3 separate regions of the Homo sapiens genome follow, and all the other regions are linked to region 2. Evidence: fine-mapped expression QTL. A gene starts in region 2. Each other region holds a variant in brackets. All regions are shown on one strand. Distances are from middle to middle. Region 1 has its middle 17 kb from the start of BHLHE23. Region 2 holds the start of SLC17A9 (solute carrier family 17 member 9). Region 3 has its middle 5.7 kb from the start of DIDO1.

The links. PIP is the estimated chance that this variant, and not a neighbour inherited with it, causes the effect.
Region 1: its variant is the best candidate, but not a certain one, in a credible set for the expression of SLC17A9 in subcutaneous fat (GTEx, PIP 0.83).
Region 3: its variant is the best candidate, but not a certain one, in a credible set for the expression of SLC17A9 in whole blood (INTERVAL, PIP 0.74).

What each region holds. Positions count from the first base shown.
Region 1 is chr20:62,989,022-62,991,691 of GRCh38, reverse strand. No RefSeq gene overlaps it. Among named protein-coding and RNA genes, the nearest start is that of BHLHE23, 17 kb to the left of the region's middle. The variant G/A (reference allele first, on the strand shown) is at 1,300.
Region 2 is chr20:62,951,245-62,953,914 of GRCh38, reverse strand. It overlaps SLC17A9 (solute carrier family 17 member 9), which reads right to left and starts at 1,206. Exons shown (of 13, transcript NM_022082.4): 1 at 1,026-1,206. The coding sequence starts at 1,084. RefSeq lists silencers at 986-1,085, 1,096-1,415 and an enhancer at 967-1,796.
Region 3 is chr20:62,930,900-62,933,569 of GRCh38, reverse strand. It overlaps a transcript of DIDO1 not described here. Among named protein-coding and RNA genes, the nearest start is that of DIDO1, 5.7 kb to the right of the region's middle. The variant G/A (reference allele first, on the strand shown) is at 1,514.

The sequences.
Region 1 (2,670 bases), 38 kb before region 2:
AGAGATGCAGCTCTGGGAATCGGGCCTCCCTGTCCTCCTGCCTCCTGGACAAGCACCTTCCTCAGAAGCCGCGCAGTGGCTGGTTTCTCATCTGCCTACAGAGACAGTGTGTATCTGAGTAAATATCCCTTCCCTAAAAAGCAGAATGACAGCCTGTTGCAAACAGTGCTTCTGGCTACTTGCTTCCTTAGTCGATCTGGGAACTGTCTGCATCGTGTGTGTGACTGAGCCCGGCTCCTCTGAGCAGCAGCTCAGGTTCCATCTCTGACTTCCTGGCCTTTGCCAGCAGCTTGCAGTGCTGGGAGCTGGGATTGACGGCCACCACCAGACGCAGAAAGAGGCAAGGAGAATCCCCCTAGGAGGACTCATGCCCTGCCCACACCTTGATTTGGGGCTTCTGGCCTCCGGGACCATGAGGGGATCAGTTTCTCTTGTTTTAAGCTGCCCAGTTTGTGGTACTTCACGGTAGCAGTTCCAGAAGATGAAAGCAGCACCTGCCGTGAAAAATCCTAAACTTGGGCTGCGGCGTGGACGTGTGCCCCCACGCCCTTTGGCATCCTCCTGGGGTGGTGGCTTTCCTTTCCACTTGGGCCTGTTCACATCTTTCGTGTAAGTTTTTTTCTCCCAGAGGAATGAGAGGAGAGGGTGGGCGAGCTGTCAGTATGAAATTCCATCAAGTGTGCATGGCAGCAAAGCTGCCCCCACCCCACAGGTCAGCCAGCCAGGGTGCCCAGAAATTGGGCACAGAGACCCTTGTGTGGTCCTGTGGGCCTCTGCAGCCCGGCACGGGAGCCCCCACTGTGGAGGTGTTGGATATTGGGTGGATCAGGTACTGAGTGCTCAGCAGCCTGGCTCAGGAGCCCCTACCGTGGAGGTGTTGGAGATGAGGTGGGTGAGGGACTGATCGCTCTATAGCCCAGCTCAGGAACCGCCGTTGTGGAGTTGTTGGAGGTTGGGTGGGCTCAGGTACTAAGTGCCCACAAGCCGGCGCACTCCCCGCTGGGACCCTTAACCTAATCACGCGTTTTACCACGTTCACAGGCTGTGAAGAGCTGTGGAGATTGGGTGGGTCAGGTCCTAAGCACTCCGCAGTGCAAGCCACGAAGCCAGGCTCTCGTTCCCGTCTTGCAGATGGGGTGGTGGCGGGTGAAGGAGACCCAGGGCCTCCTGCTGCTTTCGGAGGAGCCGGAACTCAGGGCCCAAGGCAGCTGCAGGCAAGTCTCCCGGCTGGCCCCATAGAGGCAGCCCCTGCCTGGGGTGGAAAGTATGCAGGGAGGCGGCTCTCTGGCACACACCGAC[G/A]CTCTCCTGGTCCAGGCATTTGCATTCTTGAACAGAAGGTCATGCACCCTCCACCTCAGGATGCTCAGACCAAGGAGCACGGAGGGTGGCCTTGCTGGGCTCTCCTGAAAGTCACAAGCACCTTGGAGGCCACCCCAGGAACGTTAGGAGAAGGCAATGCCAGCCGGGCCACCCCAGGAACGTTAGGAGAAGGCAATGCCAGCCGGGCCACCCCGGGAACGTTAGGAGAAGGCAATGCCAGCCGGGCCACCCCGGGAACGTTAGGAGAAGGCAATGCCAGCCGGGCCACCCCGGGAACGTTAGGAGAAGGCAATGCCAGCCGGGCCACCCCGGGAACATTAGGAGAAGGCAATGCCAGCCGGGCCACCCCGGGAACGTTAGGAGAAGGCAATGCCAGCCGGGCCACCCCGGGAACGTTAGGAGAAGGCAATGCCAGCCGGGCCACCCCGGGAACGTTAGGAGAAGGCAATGCCAGCCGGGCCACCCCGGGAACGTTAGGAGAAGGCAATGCCAGCCGGGCCACCCCGGGAACGTTAGGAGAAGGCAATGCCAGCCGGGCCACCCCGGGAACGTTAGGAGAAGGCAATGCCAGCCGGGCCACCCCAGAAGGGGCGTGTGTCAGTGGCTGGGAGGATGGCCTCAGTCCTCCATGTCCACGCCAGGAAACAGGTGTGGGGTCTGGGCTGATGCAGAGAAGACGAGCAGGGAAAGGGGTCCCGATCCAGACCCCAAGAAAGGGTTTTTGGGTCTCATGCAAGAAAGAATTTGCGGCGAGTCCATAAAGTGAAAGTAAATTAGGAAAGTAAAAGAACAAAAGAACGGGGACTCCATAGGCAGAGCCACCGCATGGGCTGCTGACTAAGGTCACTTACACGTATTTCTTGATTATATGCTAAGCAAGGGGTGGATTATTGATGAGTTCTCTGGGAAAGGGGTGGGCAATTCCCAGAACTGAGGGTTCCTCCCCTTTTTGGACCATATAGCGTAACTTCCTGATGTTGCCGTGGCATCTGTAAACTGCCATGGCACTAGCAGGAGCGTCTTTTAGCCGCTAACCTATTATAATTAGTGTGTAATGAGCAGGGCGGGTGAGCAGAGGCCACTCTTCTCACCGTCTTGGTTTTGGTCGTTTTGGCCGGCATCTCTACCACATCCTGTTTACCAGCAGGGTCTTTATGACCTGCATCTTGTGATACCAGTCCTGCCGACCTCCAATCTCATCCTGTGACTCCGAATGCCTCACCCCTGGGAGTGCAGCACAGCAGGTCTGAGCCTCATTTTACCCACTCCCTACTCAAGATGGACTCATTCTGCTTTGAGCCCCTCTGACCACAGTATTGGAGGAACAGGAATTGGGGTGCAGCTTAGCTG
Region 2 (2,670 bases):
AGGGCCCGCTGAGGGCAGCCCTCCCCTCTAATTGGCGCCTGACAGGGCTGTGATCTGGGCTGCCAGCTTTTCCCATGCAGCCAGCGCTCCCTTCATCTGGGTGCCAACATCCGATGGTGGCACTGCCCCTTTGGGCCTTCCTACAACTCTTCCCAGCACTTCTAGGGTCCTCAGCCCTCATACAGCTGGGAACTGGTGGGGCCAGAAGGTGCCATTACCTTGCCATGGTCAGGGTAGGTACCCTGGGGACTCAGTGCAGGCAGGAGACTGCTCTGGAACCCACAGGGCCTGAGTCTAGGCCCAGGGTCCAGCCACTTAAGGCCTCAGCCCAAGACCCAGAGCCAAGGGGTTCAGCAGTGTGGGGGCTGCTCTCAGGAGCTCCCTGGCAGAGGCCCTCCCCAGCTGACCAATGGCCCGCGGTCACCATCTCGCCCGGTTTCTGAGGCGTCACCTGCCCAGGGAGCCTCCTACAGGCAGCAGTGCTGGTGGCCAGGCGACCTGCCCAGGCCCTGCTTCTCCCCACCACCAAATGCTCCGAGAGCTGAAGCCAGCGGGGAGCTCGTCCTCAGCACACAGCTGGCACGTGGTGGCAGGACCCCCCCCAACCCCGTCCAGCTGCAGGCTCCAGCCCGTGCCCCCTACCTGGCCTCCTGACTGTCCTGGCGCCTGCTTGTCAGGGTCATGCATACACAGGGTGGTTCCACCTGGCGAGGGGTATGCCTCCTGACTGTCCAGGACAATGCCCCTGGCCTGGGGAACATAGCCCTGCCTGGAAGAGCCCCAGGAACACTGGCTGGGATAGGGCACTTGCCAGGTCCGGTCCTGGAATCTCATGGCAGGGAGGAAGGACAGGGCACTCACTTCCTTCCACCTCCCACAAGGAACACAGGGGGCCCCACAGCCAGAGGAGCCCGCCCAGCTCAGCCCTCCCCACCTAGCATCGTCCCACGTGGCAGTATCTCAGCTCCCTCCCCACGGCCCCATCTCCACCGCTCCCACCCCCCCTCCCCTCACCCCCGCCACACCTGGACCACTGGGTGTCCCCGGCCATGTCCCTGCGGGCCTCGTCTGGGGGTGGCTGCATCGGGCTTGGGGTGCTCAGACGGCGTGGGCACAGCTGTGTCCCGGGGCTGCCTCCCAGCCCAGGCTGACCCACCCGGGCAGCACCGCCCAAGTCCACGTGTCAGTCCCAGCGCGCTTCCGTCTGGTTCTCTCAGGACTTGTCGCCCCCAGACGGCCACCAGGGCGGGCAGGCGGGGCAGGGCGGGGCATACCACTCGGGTGCCCGCCCCACCCTGCTGACGTCGGTCCCTGCTGCCCCATAGGAGCGGGGCCAACGGTCGCCCTGGCTGGGTCGCCCTGACTGTCCGACGCGCCCTGGCTCAGCCCCAGCAGAGGTTAGTGTGGGGGCAGAGGGGGATTCCCAGCAGCAGGCCGGTCAGACTGGGGCTTCAGAGAAGGGCCCTGGTGGTAAGCCTGGTCCAAGAGGTGCCAGCCCATCCCTTGGACACGACACGGAGCCATGGGGCCGTCTGTCCTCTGTCTATAAAATGGGGAATGATGGCAGTCCCTGCCTTACCGATCAAATAAAATCAGGGATAAAGTCTTAACCAAGTGCAAAGAGAGTAAAAGTACAGGGTCACTGATTTTTAAAATGGATCTTTCGGGGCAGGGATGGGTCCACTCCTGAGCCCTTGGACCAAGCCTGGGAGAGCTGGACAAATCCAGCGCTGGCCCATGTCTTCTCAGCAGATGCCTGTGAAGGTTGTCATTGGCCCCTGGGTTCCTGGACAAAAGGTGTCCTGAGGACCCATCACAGGCCAGGTTCTGGGCTCGGGGGCAGGGGTGACGGGGTGGGGCCCCCACTCTGTGTGCTCCTGCTGCCATGCCAAGGATGAAGCCAGCAGGGGAAGGCCTCAACCATGCAGCCTTTCCCCAGGAGGCGGCAGGGCCTGCTCCTCAGGCGTTGCCCCCACCTCCACTAGGGCCCACCTCAGTCCATCCTCCACGCAGCAGCCACCACCCAGGGGCCGAGGGAGACACGTCTAAGGCAGGGCCTTGCACTTAGAACAGACCCACATTTACCCCCTCCCTCCCCCTAGCCCTCAGGTCTCCAACAGCCCAACCCACTGCACTGCAGGGCCTGCTCCCAGGGCCCTCTGAACAGAAAGACACGGGCACCCTGAAAAGCAAGGTCATACTTTCATCCATCCTGACGTAGGGTAGGTGAAAAGATGGTGGCAGAGAGAGGTTTATTGCCCCAAACAGCCCTAGCCCATAGCCAGGAAGTTTGGAAACTGTTGCTAAACGTATCGCTGTCAACAGCACCCTCTTTGAGGTGATTCGCTTCCATTCACTCTGTGATGGTGATTTCCTACCGAGATCTGTGATCATGCTGCAGCAGACATTTGCCATCTGGTTACCCAAAGTCCCCTTCCTCCTGGAGCTGATGTTCTGGGGCAGGTAGACAAAAATCAAAGTAGTGAAAGGGGTAGGGAAGGGGTGTTACTTCAAATAGGTTGGGCTGAGGAGGCACCCCTGGACACCTGAGTGAAGGCTGGATGAGCTGAAGAAACGGGCCATGCAGGGATGGCTGGGTGGGTGAAGGGGCCATCTCACAGGGACATTATAAAGCTGGGTGCTGGTAGTGGCCAGATGGAGGCTCTCCAC
Region 3 (2,670 bases), 20 kb after region 2:
TAGAATGTTTAAAAACCAGGATATCAGCCATGTTTCAAAACCACATTATTCCCATGGATGTTTTGTTTTACTCTCAAAACCCAAAAGCATAAAATCAAACCCCTACATACTGGAGACTTCAGGCTTTCAAAGAGATTGGGCAAATCAAACCACCTTACTTTTCAGGATAATTGATAAACCCATCAGTTGTTGATGCTTAGAATGGTTAGCAGAAGTAGGTAGGAAACACTCAGACCTCAATTTTCATGAACTTCACTTTTCACAGTATTTTAAACAATTAGAGATGTTGGAAAGAGGTAAGGAAGAATTTTACTATTTAGTCTGCTGCACATATTCTTTTGTTGTTGTTTTTTTGTTTGAGACAGAATTTCACTCTTGTTGCCCAGGCTGGAGTGCAATGGCACGATCTTGGCTCACTGCAACCTCCGCCTACCGGTTTAAGCGATTCTCCTGCCTCAGCCTCCTGAGTAACTGGGATTACAGACATGCGCCACCACGCCCGGCTAATTTTGTATTGTTAGTAGAGATGGGGTTTCTTCATGTTGGTCAGGCTGGTCTCGAACTCCAGACCTCAGGTGATCCACCTGCCTGGGCCTCCCAAAATGCTGGGAATACAGGCATGAGCCATGGCGCCTGGCCTGCTGCACATATTCTGACACCATGTGTCTGGTGAACCCAGACCCTGTAAAGAATCTTCACTGGTGATTGTTTGATATAGGTGACCTTCCCCCTCCCTCTTTTTGCCTGATTTTATTTCCCTTTCTAGATTATACCACTAAATCAGAAAGCACTGAATATTTTGTAAGTTTGTTTGGGTGAGAGCAAGAATAATCTTTTCTTGATTTTTATTTTTATTTTTTTAAAACCTTTAACTCCTGCTGAGGTTGAGACAAACCGTATCTAGCATACTGTTACCTGAAACAAATGTGGTAGGAGGGAAGGTGATACAGTCCTGCCATTGCAGACCAGTGGGAAAGGCCAAAGAGTATTTTGAGTAGCAATGTACATGGTCAAAGCATTGTTTATGTACTATTTCATTTGAGTTTGATTATGTAGTTTGAACCTGGCTGGTCAGGATTTGATAGACAGTTACTGGTTTGGGATCTGACTTTTCTTTTTTATAAAAATTAACAAAAAATATATGTAAATATACACACATACATGTGGATAGTTCTCTCTGTGTCTTAAGTTATTTGTATGCATGCAGCTGTTGTGATCACGTGTCTGATGGGCAGGTAGAAGTAGAAATAAGAGTTCCTATGTTTCCCAGGCTGGCCTTCAACTCCTGGGCTCAAGTGATCCTCTCTCCTGGGCCTCCCAAAGTGTCAGGATTACAGGCGTGAGCCACCGTGCCTGGCCCTACATTTACTCTTTAAATACTTTCCTATTGGAATGAAAGAGGCAGGGTGGCTCACACCTACAATCCCAGCACTTTGGGGAGGCTGAGACAGGGGAATCCCTTGAGGCCAGGAGTTTGAGACCAGCCAGGTCAACAAAGCAAGACCTCCCTGAA[G/A]GGAAAAAACCTCCAGTTCCCATTTGGGTGTCTTTTGGAAACTGCTAATACCTCAGTCTTTGTTGTTGTTGTTGGTATTTCCTCCAAACACACTCTTTCTCAGTTTTACCATTTTGTTTTTGTGAACTAAGCAAGAGCAGGAATTAATTTATATAGTTATTCATATCTGGACAAATTCTGGAAGGTTGCTGGAGTCTCTTTCACTTCTTAAAGTGTTTTCATTTAAGAAAAAAATCTTTAATTGTAGCCTGCACAATTGTAGCCCTATCCTTACCCCTAAGGTCCCATACTCCCAAGGCATTGAGGTTAGGTAGAAGGCCCAAGAATGGGGCCGGGGCCCATTGCGTCTGGAATGCAGTGTGAACTGATGGCTGTCTCTGACCTCATGGACATCCCTGCACCTTCCTCCTGGTGCTCGCCAGCAGGTGCAGGAATTCAGTCGTCTATGGGTTCGTTTCCCCTTTTTCGCGGGTCTCTATTCCGTGGTGTGAAGAGCCTGTAAGGGTAAATGTCCTATTTGGGTACAACCACTTTACTCTTATTCTGTCAGAATCTGTCCAAGCGTTTTTTTGGCTTGTTTGCTGTGTTCCTTTAAAGATGGTTGAGATAAAACCAGTCAGAAAAGAAATAGTTTTTTGCCCTATACTTAACTAAAATATTGATTTATTCCAAAGTTGTTTTTATTTACTTTTCACTGACCTCAAAGAGAAAACTTAGACACCTTAGAGAAACATGAAACATTCTCAGAGGAAGGAGTGATGAGCATGGTTCTGTATTAATGTGTTCACTCCTTAGCAGAAGATATAGAAATACTGCAGCTTAGGCCAGGCACTGTGGCTCATGCCTTCGGAATCCCAGCACTTTGGGAGGCAGAGGCGAGTGGATCCCTGGAGTTCGAGACCAGCCTGGGCAACATAGTGAAACCCCATCTCTACAAAAAATACAAAAACTAGCCAGTTGTGGTGGCATGCACCTGTAGTCCCAGCTACTCGGGAGGGTGAGGCAGGAGGGTTGCTTGAGCCTGGGAGGCAGAGGTTGCAGACAGCCAAGATCACACTACTGCACTCCAGCCTGGCAACAGGGTGAGACCTTGTCTCAAGGAAAACAACAACACAAACTGCAGCTCATTCTTTCTAAAGGTATCTGGAAAATGACAG